Regions from separate parts of the Homo sapiens genome. Here all the other regions are linked to region 2. The links come from fine-mapping of genetic effects on gene expression. A gene starts in region 2. Each other region holds a variant in brackets. All regions are shown on one strand. Distances are from middle to middle. Region 1 overlaps SH3BGRL2 (SH3 domain binding glutamate rich protein like 2). Region 2 holds the start of SH3BGRL2 (SH3 domain binding glutamate rich protein like 2). Region 3 has its middle 43 kb from the start of SH3BGRL2. Region 4 has its middle 33 kb from the start of SH3BGRL2.

What was found. PIP is the estimated chance that this variant, and not a neighbour inherited with it, causes the effect.
Region 1: its variant is fine-mapped to the expression of SH3BGRL2 in amygdala (GTEx, PIP 0.91).
Region 3: its variant is fine-mapped to the expression of SH3BGRL2 in whole blood (INTERVAL, PIP above 0.99).
Region 4: its variant is fine-mapped to the expression of SH3BGRL2 in whole blood (INTERVAL, PIP 0.98).

The regions. Positions count from the first base shown.
Region 1 is chr6:79,701,711-79,704,399 of GRCh38, reverse strand. SH3BGRL2 (SH3 domain binding glutamate rich protein like 2) reads right to left here. Exons shown (of 4, transcript NM_031469.4): 4 at 745-2,689. Among named protein-coding and RNA genes, the nearest start is that of SH3BGRL2, 72 kb to the right of the region's middle. The variant C/T (reference allele first, on the strand shown) is at 1,621.
Region 2 is chr6:79,630,049-79,632,737 of GRCh38, reverse strand. It overlaps SH3BGRL2 (SH3 domain binding glutamate rich protein like 2), which reads right to left and starts at 1,409. Exons shown (of 4, transcript NM_031469.4): 1 at 1,232-1,409. The coding sequence starts at 1,276.
Region 3 is chr6:79,586,703-79,589,391 of GRCh38, reverse strand. It overlaps a transcript of SH3BGRL2 not described here. Among named protein-coding and RNA genes, the nearest start is that of SH3BGRL2, 43 kb to the left of the region's middle. The variant A/TTA (reference allele first, on the strand shown) is at 1,103.
Region 4 is chr6:79,596,961-79,599,649 of GRCh38, reverse strand. It overlaps a transcript of SH3BGRL2 not described here. Among named protein-coding and RNA genes, the nearest start is that of SH3BGRL2, 33 kb to the left of the region's middle. The variant T/C (reference allele first, on the strand shown) is at 1,446.

The sequences.
Region 1 (2,689 bases), 72 kb before region 2:
CAAGGTAAAAAATAGCACACAAGAAAAAAATATATATATGTATTTAACTTTATTTTCTCCAAATAGAATAAAGATTCACATGCTTAGCATATTTCTGGAAATGGCCTCAGAAAAGTTTTCTACTCTAAATCTGGTTTCTCTTCACTTTAATGATTAAATAAATGTCGACCAATTAAATATTAAATATAAAGAAACTTTAAAAATTAATCATTAAAACACAACTCAATAGGAAGAAAGGCAAAAGACATGAAGAGGGATTGCCAAGAAAAAGAAACAAGAATTCCCATAATAAAACATGTTCAACTTACTAATAATCAAAAATTTACAAAATGAAACCACAATGAGGTAACATTTTATACTCCCCAGCTTGGCAAAAATGCAACTCTGACAATCTCAAACATTGGCAAAGATTTAGAGTCCTGCAAATTCTAGTATACTGGTGGGGAGCATAAATTAGTACTCTGGAAAGCAATTTGGCCTTATCTATTAAAACTGATGATGTGCTTTTATTGTATAAACCAGCAATTCTATTCAAGGTATACATCCATTCTTCAGTATGTACACCAGAAGTCACATAAAAGAATATTCAGAGCAACATTACCTTTTTCTATTTCAAACAAAGATGCAGTTCAATAAGCACCAGCTGGAGAAGAGAACATGTGATATATTCATAATGGAATAATATTTAGCAGTGAAAAAACTCCGATGGCAATGAACATAAAAAGGAGGTGACAGAAGAATACATTCAGTTTAATTCCATTTATTATTCTTTAAGGATACATACATGGAGATAAAGTGATGAAAGACAAGAAGGCTATGGTCAACACAAAGTTCAGTACAGGGGTTCCCTCTATCAGACAGGGATAGAGATAGGTTCAGGAAACCGCACACGGTACCTCAAAGGAAAGGCAATAAGGTGGGTGGTAGGCACACAGGGGTTTGTTTATTGTCATTATTATTACTCTTTATACTTTAGCATATATATTATATGTGTATATACATATCTATATTCCATTGCATGTATGAAATTTTTTAAAAATTCAAATGGCTTATAACAAAAACAAATTATGTATAATGTCTCAAATGGTGAATCACAGCCTGGAGGCTCTTAATTTACCTCCACTCTATCATTGAACCCTGGCTAAAACTGCTGCTTTGTTTCTATTCCCCTCATACTTGAGAGTAGAGATATTGCCCTGCTCTGACAACACTTACCACATTTTAGGGGCTTGATCCATGCTGACAGAAAGGATGAACAAACAAACCTGACATGTATTTCTAGAAGAACTAGGAAAACTCTGAAGATTTGAATCACAAGTAGGCAGTGATCATTTTGGTTTCACACATTTCTGCAAACCTACAGCTCGTTCCCTCTGATCACTTCCTCCACCCTCCTTCTGTTCTGGTGCGTAGGGCTTGAAATCGTTCAGTGCTGAGATCAACCTCAAACAATGCCTTCAGAAATACTGTTTTCTTCTGCTTTCTGATGTGGCTGCTACAAAGGTAATAGGGGCCGCAGCCACTCTGCCCTTGTCTTCTGCACCCAATTCAGAGAACATGGCCACCAGCCTGTGGCTTCAGTGTACTCAGGAGATCAGTCATCCATTTGAACCACCCCAC[C/T]CCACCCAGGGGCTGAGTGATTTAACTCCATCCTCAGTCCTGATCACTGTCTGAGATGAATCTGTGGTGTCCTCCCAACACCCTCGTGCAGGACCTCATGTCTGGCTCCTTGAATGATCACACGATCTGTTTGTATTTTTACAATTTAATGTGCTGCTTTCATGCATGAGGTTCACAGGCAAGAGTAAAATCACAGCCTCTCAACTAAACAGAACTAAAATTAAGAGAGGTGTGAAAAATGGCAGGGAACAAACACTCCATTTTCAGAATATGTGTTTTCTGGAATTTATTCTCCTTTATGCTGAATATAAAATATGTGATTTCACCAATGCTTTAAGAGACAAACACATACAAGTTGAAATCTGAAAACAATAATTATATGGAGCAAAGTGCAGCCTGACACTTAACAAAAGCTGTTAAATGAAAAGTATCTCTAGAAAAAGCAAAACCCCTATAGTAAAATCAAACACAACAGAAAGAAGCTTTGGTACTTTTCAATAACGGGAGACAAAAAAAAGTTTAGTTTATTATTAAATTCATGTAATATAAAAACATCTATGTGGAGGTATTGAATTAAATCTATAAAACAGAAACAAATCTAGAATATATTAGAATCTGAGGTGAAAAAATACCTTGCTTTCCTCTTCTTTGATTGTAATAAAACACCGGAATTTGGAAAAACAAGTATTTTCCCAACTAAATTTTCTTCTGGTCTGTACTCACCTAGCAGGATGGCACTCCATATTTTATCTAATTTTAAAATGGCATAAGTTGATTTTTAGCAGCACATTTCCTTTGCTCCAGCAAGCCTACTACAGGAAATAAAAATTCTGTCTTGAAATGCCCTTGATATGAAATCTATGCCTACAATTCCCATCCACTTCTTTCCTAGTATTTTAAGACTGTGATTATCAAAATCTAAAGGCAGCTAGTTAAAGAAGGGAACAAGAAAATCATTATTATATGTTTCAAAATCAGCTGATAAAAGAATACAAGTAAGGACCCCATATTCTCTGAGCTAAGTGTGGTCCCAGAGGGCAACATCTTGGTACTCTGTGGAGCCTGGGTA
Region 2 (2,689 bases):
TCAGAAGTCTGAGGACCCCAACATGACTGCACATAAGTGTAAGTTGGATTTTCCCATCTATTGTTTCTAGTGCAAATGGGGGTGGAGGGGCTTTGTATGATCGTGTTGGTTTCTTTTTAAATAAAAAACTTCAGTGGTGTACAAGGATTTTCAAACAATATTTTATTCCATCCTCCACTCCACCCACTTAAGAAACAAATTTTGGAACAATCTGACTGAGCTACTGGGCAGACAATTGACCAGACCAAATTTAAGCAATCTACAATGCACTTTTTGATGTTACTTGATTATATATGTCACAAAGGAGGCTCTTAAATCTATAGCTGAACTCTTGGTTAAGGAAACCAAGTCTCAATAATCATGTAAAACACATGTGCTATGTCCCTTAGTGGGCTGTCAAATATACTAACTACTGAATTTTCCTTAAATTCTGACATCTCTAGCTATTTAACTTTCCTTTCTTTAAAAAAATTTTTTTTCTCTAAAAAAATTCAAGAACATCCACCAAAGAGAATAGCTAAAAATAATTAAATAGAAAACCACAATTCATAGATCCCCAGGATAAAATTTCCACAGCATTACAGGTGGAAAGAAAATGCGTGCATACACACACATTTACATAAAGATGTAAAAATATTTATGGCACCCTAAGAAAAAAAATGACAGTGAAAGCAAACAATCCTACCACAACAGGACAAACCTAGTTTTACTATTCTCTTTGCGCAGGTATAAAACTAAACAAATGCACTTGCTGGCGGGGAAGGGAGGACAGAGAGCAATTCCCACTTAAACTTGCTTCATTCAGGAGCTAGGGTAACAAACCAAAGCAGCAGAAAAGGCTCCCGTGCAAAACATAACCAGTCTGAAGGTCCCAAATCGGGAAGAACTAAACTAGGGGAAGGGGGATCCCCGAAGCTCTTGAACAACCCGTTCCCCAAATTTCCATGCCACACAACAGGAGCTGGGGGCTTCCCTCGGACTCCATTTTCAGGCCGCGTTGTCTGCCTTTCAGGCCACGCAGGGTGGGCATTTGGGTGAGGCCGGGGTCCCCCACCCACCTTTCCTCCCCGCCCTCTTCATTGTTGTCGGAGTGTGATGGATCACCTGCCGGGCGCGGGCTCCCGCGGGCGGACCGGCTGAGCGCAAGGACGCGCAGTGACGAGCGCCGCGCGCCTCCCGCAGGACCCGCGCCCCGCGACCCCAACCTACTGCCCGCCCCCACCGCGCTCACCGCCACGAAGCCCGAGGAAGAGGCGATGAACACGCGGATGACCATCCTCTCGCTGCGCCCGGGACAGACCCCTTGCCCCCCGGGCTCCGGGCTGGCGTGGACGCAGAGCTGAACCCAGCTACGAGCCGCCGGCAGCCTCTGGGTAAAGCGCTGCCGTCGGGGAAGATCGCTGGGATCTGGCTCCCTCCCGGCGGGTCCGCAGATAAAAGCCCAGCGCCGCCCGGCCGCAGGCTGAAGGGGAAGGAGAGGGAGGAGGAGGGAGCCGGCTGCGGGGCTTGATGGGATTTGTAGTTTCCGTCTCTCCCTGGAGTGGCTGGTGGACTGAGCTCCCCTCCTGACCGCGCTTCTATCCCGAACACGCGCAGGTGGCTGGAGGGGAGCCACAGCCCGGGCAGAAGCTGTGAGGTGGGTTGGCAAGGATCCTGGCTTGATGAGGAAAAAGCAAACTAGGCAAAAGGGCTCGGTTCAAAGTCCAAGCTTGGGTTCTGTATTGTGGTTTATTGGTTTGGAGCATCCACACCCAGAAATGCCAACAGACACGATCGTGCTGCGGGCACACATCGTCTCAGGGCCGCTGGCGTACCGGGCAAACCCCAGCTACCTGAAGCAGGCGGGATCGGCGAGCCGGGTGCTTGGGAGGTGTGGGCGGTGGGGTTGGGCTCGTTTGTTTGTCCAGTAGCACTGGAGATTGCAGAAAGGTGATTCTTTTGGGTAAATGAGAGGTCTTCTCTTGTCTGTACACACTGAAAATTAGAAACCCAGATGGAAGCACAACCAATATTTTATTTTTCTCAGCAAAACTGTAATTGTAGTAGAAAAAAATAAATACCAAACGAAATTGGAATCCTTCTATCAACATTGGAAATCAGGACCCTACCTGCCCCACCCCTCCCTACACAATGGCTTCGCCTCTGTGCACCTAATATTTACAGTTCAGCCAAATCTGTGCCTTTTTCAGAACCGCTGCACATTCCAGCGCAGTTTCCCAGGAGGATGCTGTTAAATAAAAAGCTTCTATATAGTTGCTAATAGTTTAGGAATAGTTTTTTATCAAGTGCTTTCTGTTTGACAAAAGCTCAAGCCTCTCTCTCAGTTTTGTCGAAAGGAACCAGTTTTCCCTGCTGTACTGTATTTACTTTTTTCCTTTCAACACGGGAGTTTAGCAGAGGTCTGGGAACAATGTTAATTAAGAAAAAGTAAGAAATTAGATGATGAGGTCTCTGGCTCTTTGATACATTTCTTGCACAAAGAGCAATCATTATGAAGTATTTTTTAGAACAGTTATGAATATTTCAAATTTATAACCTTTCCTATTGCTTTTCTTAAAGCCATTTCTGTAGTAGGAATCTTTTTAAATTTCCTTCAATAATAGAAGAGACACTCCTAATGGGACTTTATTTCTTCTTCGTGTTTAAAATTTTAAATAGAAGTTTTGCTGTCTTTAGTATCTCTCGGCAA
Region 3 (2,689 bases), 43 kb after region 2:
GAAATTTTATTAATAGTAAATTAATAAAATCAGTGTAATTTTATATTTTGTAACCATTAAATAATCATTCATTAGTTTATCTTTTATAGTTTCTCTTTCTGTTTTGGAATCAATTATAGTTGGCCTCTCATAACCACAGATTTCACATCCACAGGTTCAACCAACCATGAATCAAAAAAAAAAAATATATATATATATATAGGATAATTTCACCTGTACTGAACATGTACAGACCTTTTTTCTTGTCATTATTCCCTAAACAATAGAGTAAAACAACTATCTGCATAGCATTTACACTGTATTAGATATTTTAAGTAATCTAGAGATGATTTAAAGTATAGGTTATATGAAAATGCTACATCATTTTATATAAGGAACTTGAATATCCTTGGATTTTGGTATCTGCAGGGGGTCTTGGAACCAACCCCCTAGAGATACTGAGAGATAACTATAATTCTTTTTAAATTCTCAAACATTTCTGAATCCTGTGAGCAGCTAATCAGCCCTGGGCACAATGGCTATATGACTTTGGACATAAGAATTAATACCCAATTGCTTCAGCTGCCAAATTCTGATCCTGGTTCTATCCCAGATATACTCCTGGGAAGTGCTCAGGTTCAATGTCATAATCTTTTCTTTATTTATGATACAGTCACTTTATTAATTGTTGTTAATAATACCTATGTGGAAGCAAAGCATTTGTTCTTTTCTTCATTAAATAATGACATATGATTGATACTTTTATACACTTCAAATAATTAATAAATGGTTAAGGGGATCAGAACATGCCACCTCCAATTATGCCACTTTGGTATATTAGTTATTTTGAGCTGAAGGCAATTGAGAAGCAGCAGATGCAGGAAGGGCTCTCTGACCTTCCCGCTTCTACTTCAAAGCAGGGCATACATTTCCCAGAATAAAAGTGCCTTTCCTGTCCCAGGAAGAGCAGAACATTTTTATCACCTGAGATGGGGAGTTAACAGCAAGATGAATCCATACCAACTTACTAAAATAACCCTTCTCTTCCATTAGTTTCCCCCTATATTTCCTAGTTGCTTTCCCATGATTTACTGCTCTAGCCCAGTTTTTTTTTTTTTTTTTT[A/TTA]GACAGAGTCTTGTTCTGTCACCCAGGCTGGAGTGCAGTGGCACAATCGGCTCACTGCAACCTCTGCCTCCTGGGTTGAAGTGATTCTCCTGCCTCAGCCTCCCGAGTAGCTGGGACTACAGACACGTGCCACCATGCCCAGCTAATTTTTTGTATTTTTAGTAGAGATGGGGTTTCACCATGTTAGCCAGAATGGTCTCAATCTCCTGACCTCGTGATCCACCTGTCTCAGCCTCCCAAAGTGCTGGGATTACAGCCATGAGCCACCGCACCCGGCCAGTAGACGGGGTTTCGCCATGTTGGCCAGGCTTGTCTCAAACTCCTGACCTCAGGTGATCCGCCCGCCTCAGCCTCCCAAAGTGCTGGGATTACAGGCATGAGCCACCACACTCAACCCAAACTTCTTTTTTCTTTGTCTTATTGCAACTCAAAAATTTATCATTCTTTGTTAAAATTGCATATAGGCTCTCAGACCTATCTGCTTCTTTAGGTCTTCATTTCTGATATACAAAGGCCTCTATATATACATAAAAATATTGACATCAAGTAAAATGTGTATGCTTTTCTCTTGTTAATTTATCTTTTGTCAGTTTAATTATCAGACCAGCCATAGAACTTAAGAGGGTAGAAGAAAGTCTTTCCTGCCCTACAATGGTAATATATAATACAACAAATACCCTTTTATTAACACATATTTATCAGCAAATTCTAGAATTTCCTTCCTCCAAAATTTTGGCAGGGTAAATTGTTCTACTTTGTTGAAATTAACATATGCATTAAAAACATATCATTTTTCCTTGTCCCATGCTCATTTTATACTTTCTGTCTTCACTGACCCTTGCAGCCTCATGATTAGGCTTTTTAGTCTCTGGACGTAGGTTCTTGGGGATACCAGAACTCAATGTCCACTGGAGTAACAGCTTCAGGACTGTCATTCTAAGGTCCACAGTTACTTCACATCCTTAGGTTCTCTGTGGTGGCTAGACACCCCTACTTCCTATTTCTGCATTATCTTTTTTTCTAAATATTCTCAAATGAATAACTCCTTTTATACTAAAAATTCTCCAAGTTTTGGAAAAATATAGAGGAAAAAAGTTCTGATTTTATAATTTTCTGCCAGATAAACTCAAAGTTGGGAAGAGATTACTTTAATCATAATACAGTTGAATATGTAGGAAAATGTTAAAGACAGGTAGAAAGTACAATGACAACACACTGGGGGGAGTTCATTCAGCCACCTATGTCAGGACCACCTGGGGGTCTAGATAAAAACGTGTTTTTTGGATTACCCCCCAGAACTGAGTCAGATTAAAGTAACATTTTTAATCCGCTCCCTGGCATTTCTGAAACATTCTATAGTTTGAGAACTGGTAGAACTTGCAGTTATAGACACTATTGGCCCACACAACACCTTTTTTGTCCTGCACCCATTCAGAAGCATAAAACTATTTTTGCATGGACTCTATTCCAAGTCATATTTGCAGTGTGAAGAAGGGTGATGGAAGACAGCAGTTCCTCCCTCTGACCACAAGGGAGAATTTCCTTTTGAGGCTTCCAGGCCACCCTATGATTCCAGAGGATAGGCCT
Region 4 (2,689 bases), 33 kb after region 2:
AGTGTTTTGCTGTAATTAAAAGAGCTGGTATAGGGTGGATCACCTGAGGCCAGGAGTTTGAGACCAGCCTGGCCAACATGGTGAAACCACATCTCTACTAAAAATGCAAAAATTAGCCGGGCATGGCAGCAGGCACCTGTAATCCCAGCTACTGGGGAGGCTGAGGCAGTAGAATTGCTTGACCCAGGAGGCGGAGGTTGCAGTGAGCTGATATTGCACCATTGCACTCCAGCCTGGGTGACGAGAGTGAGATTCCATTTCAAAAAAAAAAAAAAAAGATCTGTTATAAATATTATTACATGTCTCTTCATGTTTAGTGCAAGAAAGGGTATTTGCTGGGTCATAGAGTATACAAGTTGTTGCTAAAGTATTTTCCATAGTGGCGATCCAAATTTGCACTTCCCTAAGAAGTGGATGAGAGTTCTCATTGTTCTGTGATCATGCTAACACTTAGTATTTTCCAAAATTTTAATTGTTCCCACCTGCCTACAGTAAAATACTATAACATTGTTTTTAATTTGCATCCATCTGGTATTGAATGAGGTTGAGCACTTTTTTTTTTTTTTTTGAGACAGAGTTTTGCTCTTGTTGCCCAGGCTGGAGTGCAATGGCGCAATCTTGGCTCACTGCAACCTCTGCCTCCCAGGTTCAAGCGATTCTCCTGCCTCAGCCTCCCTAGTAGCTGCAATTACAGGCATGTGCCACCACACCCGGCTAATTTTGTATTTTAGTAGAGACAGGGTTTCTCCATGTTGGTCAGGCTGGTCTTGAACTCCCGACCTCAGGTGATCCGCCCACCTCGGCCTCCCAAAGTGCTGGGATTACACGCATGAGCCACCGCGCCCAGCCGAGGTTGAGCACTTTTTATTTTTTATTTTTTATAACTTCATTAAGATATAATTCGTCTACCTTACAATTCACTCATTTAAAGTATACAGTTCAATGGCTTTTAGTTTATGCAGGCTGTGCAACCATCACAAACAATTTTAGAATATTTTCATCACCCCCAAGAGCAACCCTGTACCCATTAGCAGTTATTTCTCAGTCCCCCTCAAGTTCCTCTGCCCTGATGACTTTATGTCTCTATAGATTACTTACTGTGGACATTTCCTATAGCTGGAATCATACAATATGTGGTTGTTTGTGACTGGCTCCTTCAACTTACCATAAAGTTTTTAAGGTTTATTCATGTTTTAGTGCATACCAGTACTTCCTTCTTCTTTACTGCTGAATAATCTTCCATTGTACGGATATGCCTCATTTTATTTATCCATTCATCATTTGAATGTTATAAAGAAATACAACACATAGATTGTTTCTACTTTTAGCTATAATGAATAATGTTGCCATGAACGTTCATGTACATATTTTTGTGTGGATATATATTTTTATTCCTTCTGGCTATACACTTAGGAGTGGAATTGCTGAGTCATGTCGTGACTCTA[T/C]GTTTAACCTCTTGAGGAACTGCTAGACTATTTTCCAAAGTCGCTGCACCATTTCATATACCCACCAGTGTTGTATGAGGGCTTCACTTTCTCCATATCTTCACCAATTTATCTGTCTTTTGATTATAGTAATTCCATGTGAAGTGATGGCTCAATTTGGTTTTGATTTACATTTCCATTGTGGCTAGTGATGTTGAGTATCCTTTCATGTGATTATGGGCCATTTGTACTTCTTCTTTGGAAATATGCCCATTCAGATCCTTTGCCCACTTTTAAATTGGGTTGTCTCTTTATTGTCAAATAGTAAGAGTTTGTAATATGTCTTACATACACGTCTCATCAGATATAGAATTCACAAACATTTTCTGCCATTTGGTGGGTTGTCTTTTCACTTTCTTGATGGTATTCTTTGAAAGACAAAAGTTTTAAATTTCGAGGATGTCCAATTTATCTCTTCTCTTCTGGTGCTTGTCTTTTTGGTGTCATATCTAAGAAATCATTGCCATGTTCAAAGTCATGAAGATTTTTGCTTATGTTTTCTTTCTAGAATTTTATAATTTCAGCTCTCAGGTTAGATTTATTTTGACTTAAATTTTGTATATAGTGTTAGGTATGAGTCCAACTTCATTCTTCTGCATGTGGATCTCCAGTTGTCTCAGCACCATTTCTTGAAAAGACTATTTTTTTCTCGTTGAATTATCTTAGCACACTTGTTGAAAATCAATTGACCCTAAATGTGAGGACTTATTTCTGGACTCTCAATTCTATCCCACTGATCTATATGTCTTTCTTTTCCTTCCTTCCTTCCTTCCTCCTTCCTTCCCTTCCCTTCCTCCCTTCCTTCCATCCTTCCTCTTTCTTTTCTTTTTTCTTTTCTTTTCTTTTCTCTTTCTTTCTTTTCTCTCTCTTTCTCTCTTTCTTTCTCTCTCTCTCTTTCTTTCCTCTTCCTCTTCTTCTTCTTTCTTCTTTTTTTTTGTTGACAGAGTCTTGCTCTGTGCCCAGGCTGGATTGCAGTGGTGCGATCTTGGCTCATTGCAACCTCCACCTACCTGGTTCAAGCGATTCTTGTGCCTCAGCTTTTTGAGAGGCTGGGATTACAGGTGCCTGCCACCACACTTGGCTAATTTTTGTATTTTTGGTAAAGATGGGGTTTTGCCATGTTGGCCAGGCTGATCTCGAATTCCTGACCTCACTGGATCCACCCGCCTCGGCCTCCCAAAGTCCTGGGATTACAGACAGGAGGC